Homo sapiens: one gene and its partners. The protein of the gene in region 4 purifies or fractionates together with the protein of the main gene of each other region. This does not show direct contact. Each region holds a gene or a part of one and is shown on either strand. Other genes may lie near its edges.

Evidence for each region. Proteins that work in one complex are often made in the same cells at the same time.
Region 1: the proteins of WDTC1 (region 4) and PHGDH purify together in Homo sapiens (affinity purification with mass spectrometry; one large-scale study listed by BioGRID and IntAct). This does not show direct contact.
Region 2: the proteins of WDTC1 (region 4) and GPAT4 purify together in Homo sapiens (co-immunoprecipitation; one large-scale study listed by IntAct). This does not show direct contact.
Region 3: the proteins of WDTC1 (region 4) and UCK2 purify together in Homo sapiens (affinity purification with mass spectrometry; one large-scale study listed by BioGRID and IntAct). This does not show direct contact.

Annotation. Positions count from the first base shown.
Region 1 is NC_000001.11:119,714,060-119,719,045, forward strand, and holds part of PHGDH (D-3-phosphoglycerate dehydrogenase), read left to right. Parts: intron 1-4,986. UniProt on the Homo sapiens protein: Catalyzes the reversible oxidation of 3-phospho-D-glycerate to 3-phosphonooxypyruvate, the first step of the phosphorylated L-serine biosynthesis pathway.
Region 2 is NC_000008.11:41,611,826-41,616,811, reverse strand, and holds part of GPAT4 (glycerol-3-phosphate acyltransferase 4 isoform 1 precursor), read right to left. Parts: intron 4,910-4,986; coding exon 4,820-4,909; intron 4,633-4,819; coding exon 4,539-4,632; intron 3,968-4,538; coding exon 3,852-3,967; intron 2,427-3,851; coding exon 2,371-2,426; intron 1,850-2,370; coding exon 1,764-1,849; intron 1-1,763. UniProt on the Homo sapiens protein: Converts glycerol-3-phosphate to 1-acyl-sn-glycerol-3-phosphate (lysophosphatidic acid or LPA) by incorporating an acyl moiety at the sn-1 position of the glycerol backbone. Active against both saturated and unsaturated long-chain fatty acyl-CoAs.
Region 3 is NC_000001.11:165,825,367-165,831,025, reverse strand, and holds the start of UCK2 (uridine-cytidine kinase 2), read right to left. Parts: upstream 3,413-5,659; 5' UTR 3,193-3,412; coding exon 3,094-3,192; intron 1-3,093. UniProt on the Homo sapiens protein: Phosphorylates uridine and cytidine to uridine monophosphate and cytidine monophosphate. Does not phosphorylate deoxyribonucleosides or purine ribonucleosides. Can use ATP or GTP as a phosphate donor.
Region 4 is NC_000001.11:27,240,440-27,245,425, forward strand, and holds part of WDTC1 (WD and tetratricopeptide repeats protein 1), read left to right. Parts: intron 1-4,752; exon of another isoform or gene 4,753-4,986. UniProt on the Homo sapiens protein: May function as a substrate receptor for CUL4-DDB1 E3 ubiquitin-protein ligase complex.

The DNA.
Region 1 (4,986 bases), about 92 Mb from region 4:
TGGACTGTTTGGGAGGGCTCAGCTTTCTTGTCTGTCTTTGCAACACATTTGGTTCAGAATGCCAATTAATCTCCTTGGTCAGCCCACTGAAGGGTCCTCATTTCTACACTATGCCTTTTTATTCTGCATGAAGAGGTGTCTGGCATAGTGTCTCCTGCCCTCCCCCACTGAAGTCTCTTTAATGCTGAAGGAAGCTTCGGCAGCGTTGCTAGAACCGGGCCTGGCCTTGGTTCCCACTGCCTTGTATTCTGGGCAGGCGGTCTCCTCTCACTCACCCCCTGGTCAGGAAGTACAATCATTCCTCCCTGCCCTTTCAGTGGTGCTTTTCAGACTTGGAGCAAGTCATAGTTCAGTTTAAGGGGTCATGACGAGCATTTTAAAAAACAAAGTAGGAAATATCAGACAGCAATGCAGATAGATAGTAAGGTTGTAAGTATTGTTTCATGAATTTTGTTTCATTTATGTTGTGTAGTTGTATGTGTGTGGCATGTGAGTATGAAATTACAACTTAAAAATGTGTTTCTTGGCCGGGCGCGGTGGCTCACGCCTGTAATCCCAACACTTTGGGAGGGGCCAAAGGAGGCAGATCATTTGAACTGAGGAGGTTGAGACCAGACTGGGCAACATGGCAAAACCCTGTCTCTACAAAAAATACGAACATTAGCTAAGCATCTTGCACAAGCCTGTAGTCTCAGCTACTGGGGGATGGGGTGGAGGGCTGAGGCCCTGGTTGCTGTCACTCTTCCCAACCTGGTGCTCTAGTGGGAGGATCGCTTGAGCCTAGGAGTTTGAGGCTGCAGTAAGCCATGATCTCGCCACTGCAATCCAGCCTGGGCAACAGAGCTAGACCCTGTCCCACCCCTCCACCAACAAAGATGTGTTTCTTACAATGAACCTCAGTCAAAAAAGTTTGGAAAACGTTGGCTTAAAATAATAAAGCATCTTGTTTGGAACTCACATCTTAAATATACCTAATATGCCGGAAAATATTTAAATAATATTACCATGTATCAGTGGCTTTTAAACTTTGACTGTGACCCACAATAAGAAATTTGTTTTATGTCATAACTTAAACACTCATACATATGTGTACACACAGACACACACAAATTTTATGAAATAATACTTACTCTTTTTACATATGATGCATTCTGGTATTTTCTTCTGTTTCATTAAGTAGCATTGCTGGTCAGGACCACTAAACTAAACACTGGTAATGGTATTTAATTTACTGAAGCACATCCATACCTTCATATCAGTACTTGAAGAAAGATTAAGAAGGGAATAAATCTTTCCATGCCAAATTTCTTTTCAAATTTCTTTAAAATAGGAAGTTCCCAGCCTTTACACAAGGATTTAGTTTGCAAAAGTTAAATAACCATCAAATTAATCAGGATCACACATCTTGTGCAAAACAGGGTAGACCTGCCTTCCCTATAGCTGGGGAACATGACCTGGATAGTTTCATTGTCTTGCCCTATGATTTAAGTCAGAGGCATGGCAATGCTAGAATTACCTCCTAGGCCAAGCTTGTCCCCTTGGGAAAGGAAGCATGTGTGAACCTGAGGAATGGCAATGGATTCCCATTGCTGAGTTAGCAGTTTGTCTCGAACAGCCATAAATCAAGCAGTTTTCTAGCTGAACAGCAGCTAAGGACAGGGGAGCGGGAGGACTTGTAGGAAGTGTGGGAAGTGCCTGTTCCCGCCACAGTGCAGACACAGAAGCCACACGCAGAGGGCAGTGAACATCAGAATTTGGTGCTGTGTAGAGAGAGACTTGCTTCCTCACCCAAGGAATGACAAAGAGAGGGGAGGATCTCTGGACACTGGAGAAGTTTTAATCGCAAACTGCAGAGGATGTGAGCAGATGGGTGCATTTGGTTAGGGCTGTGGTTTCCATAAGTAGAGGACAGGAGCAGACAGCTTGGGGCAAAGTCTTTGAAGGGGGTGCGTTGTGGCGTGAGGAGGGAAGGGGCTTGGGTGCAGGGGCTTTGAGGGTCCAGCAGGAGGTAGGTTGGATTCAGGCTGTCTGTGAATATGTGCTGATTGAATGAGTGGATAGAGTGGGTAGTTGAGGTTGTAAGAGGCCTTGGAAGCTCATTAACTCTGACTGATGTGGGATGTCTGGTTCTAATGTGGGACCAAGGTCTCCTGAGTGACAGTTTCTGCCCTTGGGAGAGGTGAGACCTGATGCTCATCTGTAGGAGTCTGACTGGGGACTCTTAGTTTCCCTGGCACCAAAGAAGGCTGGTTTGAGGGAAAAGTGAAGAGACTACAGCATAAATCTTTACAAGGGAGATCCATCCAGAGAGTCCATGCTCATGAAAGAAACAATAGTGCTGTTTCTGTGCTTGTTCAGGGGCTACAAGAATGGGTGGACTTTGGGGAGTCTGCATGCTCTCCAGCTAGTGTTGCCTGTGGGGAGCAGGTTTGCAAGGTTTGGGGAGCATTTTGGCAGCTTTGGAGAGAACATTGAAGAAGGATGGACCCTTAAGGCCCAAGGGAGTGATTGGTAGAGCCTCTGGAGCAGGACTGGGCCTGAGATGTGGGCTCTGGAACTTGATGCTAGAGAGACAAGGTGATAAGATGATGACTCTGGGTGGTCCCTTCTCCTCTTGCTCCATGCCTGCTTCTTGTCAGTTGAACTTTGACTTTTGGTCCTGAGCTGACCACTTGAAAGGAGGTTGTGTTTCCTCAGTGTGTTACCAATTTTCTAAGGTGTCAGTGCTGGCTGCAAAGAAATGACCACTAAAAATGTGCTTACCCACCCACTGCCCAGTTGCCCTCCAAAAAGGTCATGCAGTGTACACTCCTGTTTCCCTCCATGCTCACCAATGCTGAATATTATTCATTTTCTTTCTGCCAAAATGATGCCCAAAAATATCATATTTAAAAATCTATATTTCCTTGATATCTAGCGTTGAAGAGTCTATAAACTAGTGAAACTAGTGACCACTTTGTAGTTCTTCTGTGCATTGCCTATTTATATATTTATCTATTTTTTATTGTGCTCTTTATCCTTTAAAAAAGTGGATTTGTGGTGCATGCCTATAATCCCAGCTACTCGGGAGGCTGAAGCAGGAGAATCGCTTGAACCCGGGAGGCGGAGGTTGCAGTGAGCCAAGATCGCGCCATTGCACTCCAGCCTGGGCAATAAGAGTGAAACTCTGTCTCAAAAAAAAAAAAAAAAAAAAAAAAAAAAAGTTGATTTGTAGGAATTCTATCACTTTTGGTGATGAATCCTTGTTCTGTTACATATGGTGAAAGGAGTTTTCTCCACATATCAGGACCACTACTTGCTTTTGTTTATGGGATCTTTTTCCATGCAGAAGTTTAAAATTTGAATGTAACTGGATTTGTCAATATTTTCTTCCAGAGTTTCTAAGATTTGTGCCTTGCTTATGAAAGGTTTTCCCAATCCGAGTCATAAAAATATCCCCTGACATTTTCTTTTAATGCTTATATTTTTAAAAATTCTTTAATTCATCTGGATTTTTAAAAATCTGAAGTGAGGTAGCAATCTATTATTTTTCTTCTTGAATTTTCATAACATTATTTCTTGTTTAGTTCTTCCTTTCCGCATCAATTTGAGTTCTGCTTTTTATTTTCTAAATTCTCACATATTCTGTTTGTCTAGTGTCTATTTAGTTCTGTTGACTGATTTGTCAATTTCTGAACGTTTTTCCTGCTTTTTTTCAACTTCTTTTAATAAGATTTTTGAAAATCCTTGAGCACTCTTAGAAGTAGACCTTATGCCTCCTTATCACAGTCAAAGGAAGGGATTTCTGATGAGCAATTTTCAGGCATGTGAAGTGTTAAAGTTATTTGGGAAAGAGGGTGAAGGTGTGAGGATGGGGGACTGATGAGGGTGGTTTCTACCGGCCTCTCATCACTGAATTCATTTATTCAATGGAAGTGTATAAAACACTTCATTGTGAAGTATCAACTGTGAGCTTGCCTACAGGCCACAGGCAACTTGCTCTTCTCGACAGAGGCATTTGTGCCTATTTCTATTATCCCCCAGTAGGCAGGCTGGCTGGGAGGAGCAGGTCACCAGAAGATCCAGGGACCTTTGTTAGGGAGCTTCTGCCATCTTGGAGAAGCCACAGGATTTCTGGCAATGTCTCTCCTGGTTTAGGTGTCTAAATGCTGTATTTGGAAGGTAGTTGGAACTCAACAGATTTGGACTTGATTCCAGCTTCTGCCATATCCTAGCTATGTGACTTCAGCAAGTTCTCTAAATTCTTTAAGTGTCAGTTTGCTTGTCTGTACTATAGGGATAATTGTAATATCTGTCTTAGGATTGTTGTGAAGCACAGTGCTGGATGTAAAGTACTTGCTCAAAAAATGGTAGCTATTGTTACTAGTAAATCTCTCCAAGGGATTTTACAGTTTGGTTTTTGCACCTAACTGGCCATGGCCTTGGCTCTGGCCCTATCTTCTTGACATCTTGGCAGGTCTACCAACTCTTCTTCAGTTACAGTCTCAGAGTTAGCCAGTGGCAATGACTTTCCAGTTCTTGGCTGGTTTTTGATCTGTAAGAGTGACCTTGGGCAGGTTACCTCTCAAAGCCTCTGTTTCTTTATCTGGAAACTGGGGATGATTATACCCCTTCTCCTTGGAGTTGTGAAGAGAATAATGTAAAGCAACTGGTGTAATGCCTAGTACCCAGCAGGTGCTCAATAAATGGTTTATGTGCTGGTGAGGCTGGTACTATGGATATATGGTATAGAGTAGATAAAGTTTTAATATAAAATCCCTGCATTAGGCATAGAAAATATAACTAAGGAGACCAAAACTGCAGGTCTAAGAGAGGACAACTAGATATGAAACATATTATATTGGTGATCACAACAAAAATGGTGGGGTGTAGGGAGAGTGACAGTTCAGGGTTGTTGGCAAATGTTTCCTGGAAGATAACTTTATTGCACCTTGAAAAGTCAGTAAAGTGTGTCCAGGCAGGGAAATCCTTTTCTTTGGAGCCTGT
Region 2 (4,986 bases), on a different chromosome or scaffold from region 4:
CAGATGTTCTTAGCCATACATGGGCTCTACTCTGTGGACTAAATGGAAATGTATCTAAAATTTATAAGCATTTTACTTTGGAGAGGAGCGGAAACTCCTCAGGGTTCGTGTTCTGACAGCAGCTAAGAGCCACTGCTTCAGAACTGTGGCCGCCACAGTGTGGTCCCAACTGGCACCATCAATGCCACCCAGAACATGTTAGAATGGAAAATCAGAAGGCCCAGCGGGGTGGCTCAGGCCTATAATCCCAGCACTTTGAGAGGCCAAGGCAGGCGGATCACTTGAGTCCAGGAGTTCTAGATCAGTCTGAGCAACGCGGGGAAACTCCGTCTCTACAAAAATTAAAAAATTAGCCAGGTGTGGTGGTGTGCACCTGTAATCCCAGCTACTTGGGAGGCTGAGACACAAGAATCACCTAAATGTGGGAGGTCAAGGTTGCATGAGTCATGATTGTGCCACTGCACTCCAGCCTGGGTGACAGACTGAGACCCTGCCTCAAAAGAAAAAGAATAGGAAGTTCAGAAACCCTGGGTGTGGGGCCCAGCAATCTGCATTTAAACAATCCCTGCAGGCAATGCTGATGCAGCCTAAGTTCAAGAGCTGCTGTTCTGGAGGCAGCAGTAAGGGCTTCCATCCAGCATCACGGTCACACTGCAAAGCACCTGTCCTCGTTTTGCCAGAATGCAGGATGCAGATGCCAGTCCCCACTCCCACACCCAAGGCAGACTCTGCTAACAGACTATGTTCCTCTTTCCTGCTGTTTCCAGACACAGCATCCTCAGGCTCTGGTGAGTCCTAGCCTGTCAATCAGAGTCCCCTGCAGGCAATATTCATCTGCCATCCCTGGCCTGGTCCTCTGCCTAAATGATAAACAGTGAGTGGCTGGTGAGCATCGGCCTCACCAGGAGCAACACCTCTCCAGTGGCACTGGCAAGGTGAAAAGAAAGTCAGAACCAACTCTACAGAATGCTCTGCAGACAACCCAGTCCCCTACAAAAGAAATTCTAAGTGTGAGCCTGACTCATATCTGCTCACCATTTTATCGAGCTCTCAGGCTGCAGCCTAAATACTTTAACCACACTGAGGATGGCCTGTGTTTTGTAGGTGTCATGATGTGAGGCCTGGTGGATGTGAAGAGGGTAAGAGCGGGGAGGAACAATGTGCAGATGACTAGCTAATCACATCCTATAGCTCTGGGTGTCTGAAGGGTTAGAGGAGCAGTTCCTAAAGGGTCGACGTAGACTAGATAAACTCCCAGGGTCCATCTCATTGTTAGGAGCTGTTGTAGGTCTAAAAGATGACACAACTAAAAGCAGTGAAGCTGTTTCTCCCACTGGGCTGGAGTAATGACCCCCCCCCCAATCCTCATGGCTCCCCCAAAATGCAAAAATCCAGCTTAAAACCACACCACTGTGCCCTGCAATCAGCCAGCTTTCCATGTGGAGGGGCCTACATTCCAGCTAGGTTTATGAAGCAAGGTAATAAGTGAAGGGCTTGCCATTTCCCGAATGGTGGCGGCAGCAGCATGCAGGCGGGAATCTGGCTGTCCCCCATTCCACACTCCCCAGGCCCTTCTAAGGGGTGCTGAGCACTCACCATCCTCCTCCGGCAGCACTTGACCCACGTCAACCCAGCCCCACGCCACTCTGCTGAGGGCATCGACCACAGACTGGTGACCCCAGCTCCTTCCTCTACCTCCTCCTGCTGCACCCCACTCACAGCAGCTCCAGTAATGACAGTGTGTACCATCGGAGGTCTTATACCTTGATAGCAACAGGGTAAACTGTGGCTCCAATTTCAAAACTTCCCTTTTTGAACATCATCACCGATGTATTATTGATGCAGGTTCCTAAAATGCAGGAGACAATAAAATGCTATTTCTGTTGGCCCTTTACCCCAGATATTAGGCGTTTCTTAAAGACTAAGTATAATAGTCAAAATTCTTCTAATGGTTCCTCCAGTAAGATACATCTGTCATCTCCCTAACTTAAAAACAAACACTTAACAGAGACAGGCAAGATGGTGCCTCCGATTCTCTTTCTACAGGACCACTTTCCCTGATTCATACACACAGCCTAGATAAAGCAGAGACGCGCAGTGGCCTTAGGAGGACACCATGAGCTCTGTGAGGAGCTGAAACATTACAGAAGAAATTCCTGCATTTGGGGAGTTCACACTATGGCATTCTTAGTTCAAATTCTGAACTTACCTGAGTTTTTAGTCCTACTTCCAACCTAAAGGGGACCTAACATTATTCAGTGAAAACAGATAACCCCAACAAGGGCTGAGGGCCTTGGTTCCCAGGAAACATCAGCATCACACTCCTGCACTCCCCACAGAAGCCCTTCGTGGCAACCAACCCCTTCTTACCTTCTGGGAAGATGAGGATAGGCAGCTTGCTTTTATCTTGCACATGTTCAGTCAGTCTTTCAAAGAAGAAAATAAAATAAAGGGTCAGACAACCTTATACACATCGTCAAAATATGTTTATAAATAACCTATTTATTTGTGACACTAGTTTCGATTATAAAAAGTTAACAAGCATAACTGTATCCTTTTAAACCCATAATCTAATGCTCATCAAGAAAAAATGTATATGGATAGAGAAAAATCAGGTTACCATTTAATTCACAGAACTGTTCAATTCTGTGCGAACATCGGAGCACCAATGATGCCACTCAACCTGGGGGCCACCTGAAAGAGACACCTGCCACAAGGCCTGGGCATGGCCCCCTCAATAAACCTGTGTCACTAGACTATGTAACAGTTGTGAGGCTGGGCCCAGCCCTGCTGGCTCGATGCTCTGTCCCTGAGATGTAGCAAAGGGAGTTAGGGGAGAGTTCATCTGTCTCTATGGAAGATAATCTCAACTGTCTTTTCTTATGTGTTATTTTTTGAGACAGGGTCTCCCTGTGTTGCCCAGGCTGGAATGCGGTGGTGCAATCATAGCTCACTGAAGTCTCACCCTCCCTGGCTCAAGCGATCCTCCCACGTCAGCCTCCCAAGTAGCTGGGACTACAGAAGCGTACCACCACGCTCAGCTAATTTTTAAATTTTTTGTAGAGATGGGGGTCTTCCTATGTTGCCCAGGCTGGTCTCGAACTCCCGGGCTCTCAAAGCACTGGGATTACAGGCCTGAGCCACCATGTGTGGCTTGGTCTCAACTGTCTTGATGTCTCTGTCTGCTGCAAATCTCTTTGCATTACTTACAGCAGATTCACCTTCTTAAAGTTTGAAAACAGGGCAGTACTTTGTTCCACTGCCTTAGGTTTCTTTTTATTTGTGATAAATGAATTCATTTTGAGGTTTCAAATAGCAGTAAAAATTCGTATTTTGTTTATTATGATGGGTACAATGAATTAAAAAAAGGTTAAGAAACATTATTAACTTGGTAAATAATACTAGGGTTTCTATACTTTTTTTTTTAAGACAGAGTCTCATTCTATCGCCCAGGCTGGAATGCAATGGCGCGATCTCAGCTCACTGCAACCTCTGTCACCCTGGTTCAAACTATTCTCCTGCCTCAGTCTCCCTAGTAGCTGGGATTACAGATGCCCGTCAATAATTTTTGCATTTTTAGTATTTTGTATTTTCACCATGTTGGTCAGGCTAGTCTCAAACTCCTGACCTCAAGTGATCCGCCCACCTCGGCCTCCCAAACTGCTGGGATTACAGGCATGAGCCACCACACCCGGCCACTTTTAAAATTTCATGTTTTAGGAAAAAATTATTATGAAAGCAGTATAGGCTTATGATAGAAGGCACGTAACTGCACTGTGGAGGGATAACTACCCTGAAACCTTTTCAGCATTCTAACTGGCCAAGCAGAACAGCAGTGTTCTGTCCATTACCTCTTAGCCACCAGGTGGCGATCCTTCACTTCCGAGCGCTCAAACCAGACGTGTGGGCAGGCCTTCACCATGGCTCTCTGAATCACACCCATGAGTCCCCCGTGCACTTGACCCACCTAAGCGCAGGCACAGGACTCATTAGTAGTGAAGCCATCTTCACACGAATCTCCCCACTCTAGGAAGAACCACATCTCACAAAATAAGCAGTCCAACTTCTCACTTCTAACGCTTGCCGGCTGAAGGTTGCTCACTGCCAAGAAACCACTACCAAGACTCCCCAAATCTTAAACTTCTCCTTTTAATCAGTAATACTAGAAATAGGTAATTAAAAACATAACTGAAACCCCTAAGACAAAATACTAAAATACTAAAGTAGCGCAATTCCCTGTGTAAAACTGCCCCTCCCTGGGCAGATTCTCAGATGCCCTGGACACAGTCCTTGCCAGCAACTCCCTCTGCCCCTGCTGGTCTGCCTGACTGCCCTTGGCATCCTCTCCAGCCACACTCACCAATCACTCTGCCCAGGGTATCTCCTATCACAGTCCCACAGAGCCCCCACAGTGACAGTAAGGTGGGGGCCTGGCCCACGCATAAATGTGTTTATGTGAAGGGTCCAGGAGCCTCCTAGCCCTGACCACTCTAAAGCAGGAAGTCTTGCCTCAAGAACGCACCGGAAAGAGCTCTTACCATGGCATAATAGCCATCGCTGGCCAAGATGATCACATCGATCGGTGAGGTATGATTGGCCACACAGATGCCACCATTTCTTGGTCTGTTTTCCCTGGGTTTAAAATGTATGCAAAGCAACCAAAATTAGTGTGAAACAGTTCATGTAACACACCTCTCACCTCACATGCTTCATCTGCTCTAACTAAAAGCTCAGAAGTGTCTTCCCATTTGGCTAAGTATAGGTGGGTGGTGTTTCCTGCAGCGCCATCTCCCTTCCTATCAATACAAAGCGCTCTCACCTGTCATGGTAGGTGATGATGGCTGTCAGCGCTCGCACGCAGATCCGGTAACACATTAAGTGAACATGTTTACTCATGAACTCCTTAAACCTGCAATAACAGGACAAGGATTCTGGGTTTTATTTTACATACAGGAAGACAGAAAGAGTTACTGACTTCAACAGCTC
Region 3 (5,659 bases), about 140 Mb from region 4:
AGCATTCCTCCCACCTCAGCCTCTAGACCTGCAGCACTGCACCTGGATAATTTTATTATTTGTAGAGAACAAGTCTCACCATGTTGCCCAAGCTGAGAATCTGGTTTTAAACATAGGTCAAAATAACTTTCTCGACCCACCACAATTTTCATTTTATACAGATGGGGTCTCACTATGTTGCCCAGGCTGGCCTCAAACTCCCGGGCTCAAGCAATCCTCCTGTCTCTGCCTCCCAAAATGCTAGGATTACAGGTGTGAGCCACCAGGCCCAGTCTTGGACTTTTTTAATAACAAAAATATCAATAATCTTAAAGGATGACAAACTATCAATCATTCGTATGTCAAAAATGTACAAACAAGCTTGGGCAACATGGTGACCTAGTCTCTACAAAAAATAAAGATTGCCGGCGTGGTGGCGCACACCTGTAATCCCAGCACTTTGGGAGGCCGAGGCGGGCGGATCACAAGGTCAGGAGATTGAGACCATCCTGGCTAACACAGTGAAACTCCGTGTTTACTGAAAATACAAAAACATTGGCCAGGCGTGGTGGCGGGCACCTGTAGTCCCAGCTACTTGGGAGGCTGAGGCAGAAGAATGGCATGAACCCGGGAGGCGGAGCTTGCAGTGAGCCGAGATCATGCCACTGCACTCCAGCCTGGGCAACAGAGCAAGACTCTGTCTCAAAAAAAAAAAATAATAAAAAAAATAAAGATTAAAAAGCCAGCCCAGGTAGTGGCTCACACCTGTAATCCCAGCACTTTGGGAGGCAGAGGCGGGCGGATCACTTAAGTCTAGGCATTTGAGATCAGCCTGGCAACATGGCAAAACCCCTTCTCTACAAAAAAAAAAAAATTAGTCGGGCATGATGGTGCAAGCCTGTAGTCTCAGCTACTCTGGAGGCTGAAGTGGGAGGATCACTTGAGCCCAACAGGTGGAGGGTACAGTAAGCCAAGATCTCACCACGGCACTCCAGCCTGGGCAAAAGAGTGAGACCCTGTCTCAAAAACAAAACAAATCAAACAAACAAAAAAATTAGCCAGTCATGATAGTGCCAGCCTGTACTCCCAGTTACTCCAGGTTGAGGCTGAGGCTGCAGTGAGCTGTGACAGTGCCACTTACTCTGGGCTAGGTGGAAATGCGAGACCTTGTCTCAAAAATTAAATTAATAAATAAAAATGTACAACATGCTTTGAAAACTGCAGAAAAACGGACCCTTCCTTTCTTGAGAGTTTCTACACTCTTCCTCCTGGATAAAAATAGCAGAGAATTAGCTACTCCCACATTGGCTCACCACTATCCCATCCCTCACTTTACCCAAGTAACACCAAAAGCTTGATTATCAAGTTAGAACAGGTGACGACTGAGAAACACACAAGAAGAACAATAACAGAGTTATTCACCTTTTAGGGTCGCAGTTTTCACCCTCGTGGTAACTAAATTATTCAGATGATTACCAAGATCATTTTGTTTCTAAAAGCTCATATGCAAGTTTAAGCCTCCTCCCCACTTTAGGAGGACTGGACTTCAGCTTAAAATTTGGACCCCACTACATGCCAGGCAGGCATTGTGCTAGGAGGGCTGGGAAAACAGCCATGAACAACAACAACAAAAAATGCTCCCAATCCAACAGGAATATGCCAGAAGAGCAAGAATAATTCTAAAAGAACAGGTAAAGCTTCCTGAAGGGCTAGCATTCTGGTTTTGCTTTGAATTACTAGTATAAGTCATAGTAAAGAACATACTCAAAAATTACAAATTTTTTTAAAAGCCTTCAACCAGGGAGCACACAGAACAGAAACTTCAGGACCTAAAGCAGGCCGATTCCTAACCCCGGGAGCTACGGACGAGATCAACTTCATCAATAAAGAAGTCCAGCAGCGCCAGCCGCCGTGTCTGGCTGGGCTCCTTGCGCTAAAGTAGTCCAGACCAGGAGGGAAAAATGTAAAACCAACATGGAGGAGGGGCTACTGACGAGTCGGTTCGGGAGCTAAAACCTCGTGGCTCTTTCCTCATGGCGCCAACCAGCCTTCCTGCTCTGCTCTCCCCAGCCGGGAGAAGCATCATCCTGCCTCTCCAAACCAGCACCCAGCACCCAGCTCTCAGGATCCCTTGAGGAACCCGTGCTCCAAATGAAGTTGGAGGGTGTTAAACGGTGGGAAAAACAAGTAGCCACATCTTAAAGGCTGTTAGGGGAGCAAAGAAAGAACCATCTGGGAGGACTCCACCCTTCTCCACCTGCAGAAAAAACCCCGGGTAAAGCTAGGAAGTCATTTCCCTTGTCTCTCCTTGCCTTGCGGATAAAACAAAGGAAACAGGCTCCTAAGAGGGTCAGACACCCATACGATGACCCCCTTCCGTGGATCCAAGACGCGTACGTCCTGGACACCGAAGAGCTTGGAGCCAGTACAACTTTCTCATTGAAGCCGACCACGTTTCCTCTTATAACCTTAAAAAACAGAAGCCCCTACTATTATCGTTTCATTGATGTCACGGCACCTATTTGGCTCTCAGACTTTTACCCGGAAACCCCTGTAATCCCCAGCCCTTGCGTGCAGCCCCACACTGGGCTCCCCTTCCCCGGGATGCCGCCTCGCGCGTTCCCGCCACCCTCGCCCTCTCGGCCGCGCTTCCCGGCTCGCTCCGCCCTCGGCACCAGGCTGCGCCGCGGGGCGAGCACGTCTGTGCCAGACCGGGGCTTGAGGGAGTCCATCGGGGGTTAGTGGGGGATCCTGCGGAAAGCCCTCTCCCCCGACACTGGAGTTGCAAAACAATAAGCATCCGCTTCCCTGCCCTTCCCCCATAGGACCCCGGCCACGAGTTATTAACGCGGGGGGAGAAAAGCCGGAGGAGCACTCCCGCCCTGCGATCGTGGCCGCGTACCCCCGGAACCCCCAAGGCCCGAGTCTTCGCCTGCCCCCGCCGCAGCGCCCCCAGGCCGCGCGGGGCGCACTCGGCGCTGGAGCGCGGCCGGGAGCGGAGGCGCGCGGGCCACGCGGTGGCTGCCGCAACTGACACGGCCCGCGGCCGCCGGCCACATGCGCCGCCCAGGGACAGAAGCCGGGAAGGGAGCGCGGCTCCGGGCCCCGCCGTACCTTGCCGCTAGCTGTTCCCCCGCTGACGCCTATAAGGAAGGGCTCGCCGCCGTTGGGCTGCTGGTGGTTCTGCAGGGTCTGCTCGCTGTCCCCGGCCATGGTTCGCGCCGCCCCTCCTCCCGCTGCCTGTGCGAACGGACGCACGCTCCCCGCCCGCGCCCGCGTCGGACTCCCTCCGCTTTCCGCAGCCGCCGCTGGGCGCTGCCGGGGCTGAGGCCGCTGTCGCTCGCCTGCGAGCCGCTCGGAGCCCGGTGACGGGGCTGGGTTTCCCGAAGGAGCCAAGAGCCTTCCTTTGCCCGCAGCGGCTGGTCCGGTTTACATCCCAGGCAGAGGTCAGCGTGATGCTGCTGCTCCAATCCGGGCGGGCAGCGCGCTGCTATTCGCCGAGGCGGAGGCGGCGAGGCGTCTGGCCCCAGCCTCCGCCCCTCCCGGGCCCCGCCGCCGCCCGAGGTCTCTGCGAAAGGTGTGAGCCCGACCTTCCCTCCCACCCGCCCGGTTAACCCTTTCTCCGACGCGCCCTAGTGGACCCTGGGGGAAAGAAACAGGCTGTTCTGTATTTTAATTTGGTATGCTACCACCTATTTTCAGAAGGGATAAAAAGCTTGAAGGAAATAATAGGCAGATTAGATAAGAAGGAATGGCCCAGGTTTGAGAAGCAAAATTTGAACAAGCTTGAAAGATTAGTGTGGAACGAAGAGTTAATGTCATTTACCCATTATCCAGGCTAAAAACTTGTGTTTCCAAAAAATGAGGGTTCTTTTTCCCTTCTCCCGTTCGCCAAGATAATATGTCAGCCGCTGGCTTTAGATATTTCCTGTCTTGGAAACCCCCCAGCGCCATCCTTTTTAGCAGGCCTGTCCTCGTGCGACTCTCTAGTGAAGGGCAATTTGAGGGGCTTATCTGAAGGGTGCCCTCCGTTGGAAAAGCAATTCCCTTCTAAACCACAGTATCTCATCCCATACACTGAGCTTCCTATGGAGTTAGGGTATCTGAAAACATACTGACATTTTGATCCATTAATATCTTCAATTGAACGGTTTTCCAGAGATTGGCAATCAGTCACTTAGAAAGGCAGTTTCAGACTCCACCTCTGGAGCCAGATTTCTGCATTCACATCCAGGTCCCTGAGCAAGTTACTTAATCTCTCTGTGCTTCAGTGTTCTTATCTGTTAAATGGGAATAATAATGGCAATTACATCCCAGGATTTTTGTGAGAATTAAATGAATTAGTGTATGTAAAGTTCTCAGAACAGTGCTGGTACAGTCTAGGCCCTGTATTAGTGTTTGAAGAGAAAAGGTTTCTAAAGCGCTGAAACTGGAAAGAAAAGTTTTGCTGGGACACACCTGAGAGAGGCAGGACTAGCCTAGTAACTTCCAGTCTCTTCTCCTGTGAACTTGGGACTAGTATCAATGAGCTGATGGGGCCTACAATCTAAAACAGAATTTACGTCAATAGCATTATCTTTTGAAACTTAGTAAATTACCTTAAATTGAAGATTATTTTGAAAAAAATAATTTTCTCTCAAGCCAGGGAAATCGAGGCTGCAGTGAGCCATGATCTCCCCACTGCACTCCAGCCTGGTCAGCAGAGCCAGAGCCTGTGTCAAAAAACAAAAACAAAAACAAAACAAAACAAAAAAAAGGATACCAGAGAAAACAAACTTTTTTCACTTTTAAATTAAAGTTGACACTTGAACAACACTGGTTCAAACTGTGAGGTTCACTTTTATGCAGCTTTTTTTTTAAACCAAGGGCAGATGGAAAACACAATATTTGTGCAGTTTCCTCAGGACTGACTGTGGGACTTCATGTGTGGATTTGGTTACATGTAGGCTGTCCTGGGACCAGTCCCTCCGCATATATCTAGGAATTACTGTATTTTATGTCACCATCTAACATCAAACTCGGTAGCAGCTCAGACAGGAGACAAAGATGGGGAGAGTGGCCACTACCTGGTACCCAGAAGCAGGCATTTGGGTGAAGTTTCCTAAAGGGGTGCCTTACCAAATAGCTATGGAGTGGGTGAGTTTTAGGTGGTCCTAGAGTTAGCCTCTTCTCCAAAAGGTCTTTTCTCTACTAGATAGATTTATTAGTCATCATGGACTTTTGTAGAACTCTTTATAGCCCATTGGAATTTGGAAGTTGAACCTACAGCTAAGGGTTAGCATGGGGATATTAGGTAGTTAAGGAGAAGAGGAGGAGGATAAAGGAATGCCAAAGGCCAGTGGGGTGGCTCATGCCTGTAATCCCAACATTTTGGGAGGCAGAAGAGTGAGGATCACTTGAGGCTAGGAGTTTGAGACCAGCCTGGGCAACATAATGAGACCCCCATCTCCACAAAAAGTACAAAAATTAACTGGGCATGGTAGTGCACACCTGTAGTCCCAGCTACACCAGAGGCTGAGGCAGGAGGATCACTTGAGCCCAGGAGTTCGAGGTTGCAGCTGTGATCATGCCATTGCACTCCTCTATCGACTTGTCTCTTAAAAAAAAAAAAAGAATGCCATGTCTTTCATAAACTTTTCTCAAATCTGCATCTTCCTTGTCATTCCTATAGTGTTTATTC
Region 4 (4,986 bases):
ACCTACTTTTTAGTGGGTTTTTGAGGACTAAATGATGAAATATATCCTTTTTACTAGACCTCACTGATTGCCCTCAAGAGCCAGGGCTTGGATGTAAAGGAATACCACTTAGTTGGCTTCTTCTGGGTAAATTCAGGCCTATGTGTAACTCTGAGAGTTCTAGGGCCCATTCTTTGAGCTATTAAGTAATAGCTGCTGACTCCTTGAAGGGCTTTGTGGCATTGAAGACTAATACCTTAAAAACTTTTAAGCCTGGGCTGGGCGCAGTGGCTCATGCCTGTAATCCCAGAACTTTGGGAGGCTGAGGTGGGCGGATCACAAGGTCAGGAGTTTGAGACCAGCCTGGCCAAGGTGGTGAAACCCTGTCTCTACTAAAAATACAAAAATTAGCCTGGCGTGGTGGCGGGTGTCTGTAGTCCCAGCTACTCAGGAGGCTGCGGCAGGAGAATCGCATGAACTCAGAAGGTGGAGGTTGCAGTGAGTTGAGATCGCAACACTGTACTCCAGCCTGGGTGACAGTGAGACTCCATCTCAAAAAAAAAAAACAAAAAAACTTTAAGCCTGAATAAGGGGAGGATGCAGTCAAAAGGCCAGAGTGTATAGGAGGCAGTGTCAGAGGCCCTGTGCAAAGAAAATTCTCAGCTACTACTGCAGAGCCAGATTTGAGGGTCACCGTTGGCATTTTTGTATTTATTATCTTCTTTTAGGATACAAGGTCACAACTGCTAGAGCTGTAACAGAGCTCAGTGCCAAGAATAATGACCCTTAATCCTCCGTATAGCCATCTGGGGAGGTATTAACCCCATTTTCTTGGAGATGGGGTGGAGAACAGGATCAGACCTTGCCCAGGGAGCTCTCCAGAGGCTGTTGAGGGCAGTGTTTGGATCAGGACTTTTGTACAATTTTGTCCTTATTCATGACCCCCCAAATTCTATAAAACTGCTTATCCTTGAACCTCTTAGGGGGCCTTCCTGAGAATGGGAGCTAGGCATTCATGGTCAGGGAGCTTCATAGTTGAGGCCTGAGTGTTTGGGTGCTGATGGCCTACCTGGTTCCCTTTTGAGTTACACATCTGGATATAACACTACTGTCACTGAGTTAGAAAGGAAACATTTCTAACTTGAATGGTTTAGTTTTCCTTGACCTTGCAGCTAGTAGTAGAGTTACAGGATGAAACTCCAGAGCCTTCTCTACAAGAGATATTTTGAATTGTGGCAGGATTTGTCAGGATGCAAGTTAAAGACTGCAGATGCTTTTAAATAGTGAGAGAGTATAGCATTATCAAAATATGCTCCCTTTTCTCTGTTTCCTTCCACTATCTTAAGGTAATTGTGAGGCCTAAGAGCAGACAGGAAAATTAGCTATGATCACTGGAAAACAAAGTTCTGAAAACATCCAGAAAAAATTTTCACAAAGCTCAAACAAGTGGCTGGGTGTGATGTCTCACACTGTTTTTTTTTGTTTTTTTTTTTTTGAGAGTCTCGCTGTGTCACCCAAGATGGAGTGCAGTGGTGCAATCTTGGCTCACTGCAGCCTCAGGCTCCTGGGTTCAAGCGATTCTCTTGCCTCAGCCTCCTGAGTAGCTAGGATTACAGGCGTGTGCCATCACGCCTGGCTAATTTTTGTATTTTTAGTAGAGACGGGGTTTTACCATGTTGGCCAGGCTGGTCTCCAACTCCTGACCTCCAGTGATCCTCCTGCCTTGGCCTCCCAAAGTGTTGGGATTACGGGGATGAGCCACCGTGCCTGGCCAGATGGTTCACACTTGTAACCCTAGCACTTTGGGAGGGTGAGATGGGAGGATTGTTTGAGGCCTGGACTTCAAGAACAGCCTGGGCAAAATGATGAGACCCCCATCTCTACAAAAAATAAAAATAAAAGTAGCCAGGCATGGTGATTTGCACCTGTAATCCTAGCTACTCAAGAGGCTGAGGCAGGAGGATCCCTTAAGCCTAGGAGTTCAAAGTTGCAGTAAACTGTGATAGTGCTACATTCCATTCCAGCCTGGGGAACAGAGCTAGACCCTGTCTCTTTTTTTTTTGAGACGGAGACGGAGTTTCGCTCCTGTCGCCCAGGCTGGAGTGCAATGGTGCAATCTCGGCTCACTGCAACCTCTGCCTCCCGGGTTCAAGTGATTCTCCTGCCTCAGCCTCCCGAGTAGCTGGGATAACGGGTATGCACCACCACGCCTGGCTAATTTTTTGTATTTAGTAGAGACAGGGTTTCACCATGTTGGTCAGGCTGGCCTCAAACTCCTGACCTCAGGTGATTCACCCACCTCGGCCTCCCAAAGTGCTGGGATTACAGGCGTGAGCCACCGCACCCAGGCGACCCTGTCTCTTAAAAGCTCAAACAGCAATACGGAGCCCACTGGGCAGGGGAGAAGACATCAAGGTGAGTTTTTATCTAAAGCTTCCCAGAAAGTAAAGCATTGCTTAGAAGCAGCTCTCTTCTGCAGAGAAAACCTCAAGCAGTCCTACATGGGATTATTTAAGCCAGGAGCCTCAAAGATGGCTAAGAAGTTTCCTGAAGATGCTTTGGTGATGAGTCTATCCTACCAGCGAAAGCTTTCCCAGAAACTGTCCTTGTACCAACTTAGTCCATGACCTTGAAATGGCACTCTTTAAATTTGTGTTTGAGATCAGCAGAGTCAAGGCAGCTTAACCCTAAGGAATGGTAAGAGACAAAGTTTCAGCAGCTTCCTGAAATTGTATCAATACTGATATTACAGGTGTGAGCCGCTGCTCCCTGGCCAGTAATTTTTTTTTTTTTTTTTTTTTTTTTTGAGACAATGTCTCACTCTGTCACCCAGGCTGAAGTGCAGTGGCATGATCTCGATCTTGGCTCACTGCAACCTCTGCCTCCTGAGTTCAAGTGATTCTCCTGCCTCAGCCTCCCCAGCAGCTGGGATTACAGGCGCCTGCCACCATGTCCGGCTAATTTTTGTATTTTTAATAGAGACAGGGTTTCACCACATTGGCCAGGCTGGTCTGGAACTCCTGACCTCAAGTGATCTGCCCGCCTTGGCCTCCCAAAGTGCTGGATTACAGGTGTGAGCCACCACACCCGGCCCAGTAATTATTATTTAGTGGCCAATGGCCTGGCCCCTGGAGTCAGACTGTATAGGTTGACTCTCTGTCTAAGAACTGTGTAGCTTTGGCAACTTCACTTTTCTGTGCCTCAGATCCTGCATCTGTAAGATGAGGATAACAATAGCACCTGTCTCATAGGATTATTATGAGGAGTCTGTGAGATGACACTTGTAAACTGTTAGAATGTTCAATAAATATTATTTAATAGGATCAGTGTCAGGCATTTTACATGCAAGCGCTTCTGTTCCTCCTCACCCTGCAGAGGTAGGTATTATCAGATTAGGAAACTAAGGTTTAGAAGTGTCAAGTCAGGGTCTGGCATGGTGACTCATGCCTATAATCCCAACACTTTGGGAGGCTGAGGTGGGCAGATCGCTTGAGCCCAGGAGTTCGAGACCAGCCTGGGCAGCATGGTGAAACCCCATCTCTACAAAAAAAAAAAAAAAAAATGCAAAAATTAGCCAGGTGTGTGTGGGTGGTGCATGCCCGTGGTCCCAACTACTCGGGAGGCTGATGAGATGGGAGGATCTCTTGGGCCCGGGAGGCAGAGGTTGCAGTGAGCTGAGATCATGCTACCACACTCCAGCCTGGGTGACAGAGCCAGACCCTGTCTCAAAACAAATAAAAATTTTTTTAAAAAAATTAAAAAGATGAAGAGACGTAAGAGGTATAGAAAAGAAAAAAAAATTTAAAAGAAATGTCAAGTCAGACAGAAAATAGGTGTCAGAACTGGGATTTGAACCTAAGATCTGTTAGGTCCACAGCTACACTCTTCATTTTATTATGCTCTTTCTTTCTTTTGTTTTGTTTTGTTTTTGAGACAGCGCCTCACTTTGTCACACGGGCTGGAGTGCAGAGGCACAATCATAGCTCAATATAGCCTCAAACTCCTGGGCTCAAGCAATTCTCCCTCCTCCCTCCTGCCTCAGCCTTCCTAGTAGCTAGGACTACAGGAGTGTGCCACCATGCCTGGCTAATTTTTAAAAAACTTTTTTATAGAGACAGGATCTTACTCTGTTGCCCAGACTGCTCTCGACCTCCCGGCCTTCAAGTGATCCTCCTGCCTCGGTCTCCCAAAGCACTGAGATTACAGGCATGAGCTACCACACCTGGCCTTATGTTATTTCCAATGACCTTTATGCATTGAAAGTGAAGTTGAGTCCTTGCTTCGTTGCATCTTTCATCTTTTTTGTAGGATTGCTCCAATAGAACCACTATAAATAGAGTGAAAGGAAACTTGCATACATCTTTGCATAATTCAGAATGTTGAAAGGGGGTCAGTTGTCACCCTGGTTGGGGGCACGTCTCTGCTATGGGAGGTAGCATGTCCAGAGGAAAGAGAATACAGATGTTTTAGGTTCCATCTCTGGTCTGCTGCTAACCAGTAGTGTCTACTTAAAATCTCAGCATAGTGTCATCGGAAGGGGTTTTGTAGCTTATCTCAGAGTCCACCTCTCATTTTACAAACGGCAGAATAGACTGAGAGAGCAAAATGCCTCACTCAGGGTCATACAGCCAGTTAAAGGCAGAGGCTGGCTTGGAGCACAAGACCCTAGATCTCCCAGTCCAGTGCTTCTTCCTCAGTACCATGTAGTATTCTGCTTCACTTCTCCCTTGTTAAATGGGGATTATTATCGTACATGAATATTCATAGCAGCATTATTCATAGCAGCGTTATATTAGCTTTCTAACTTCCTAAAAGGATTGTTGCAAAGTTCAAATTAAAAGCTTGAACAAAAGTGCTTTGATAGGTATAAAACATTGTGTGTAAGGCAGTCATGCCATTATTCATTCAGCAAATATTTATTGGTGCCTGCTAAGCTTACATCACTCCTGGAAGACCAGTGGGATCAATGGATGAATCGGATGAAGAGCAGGCCCTCAGCATGCTTTT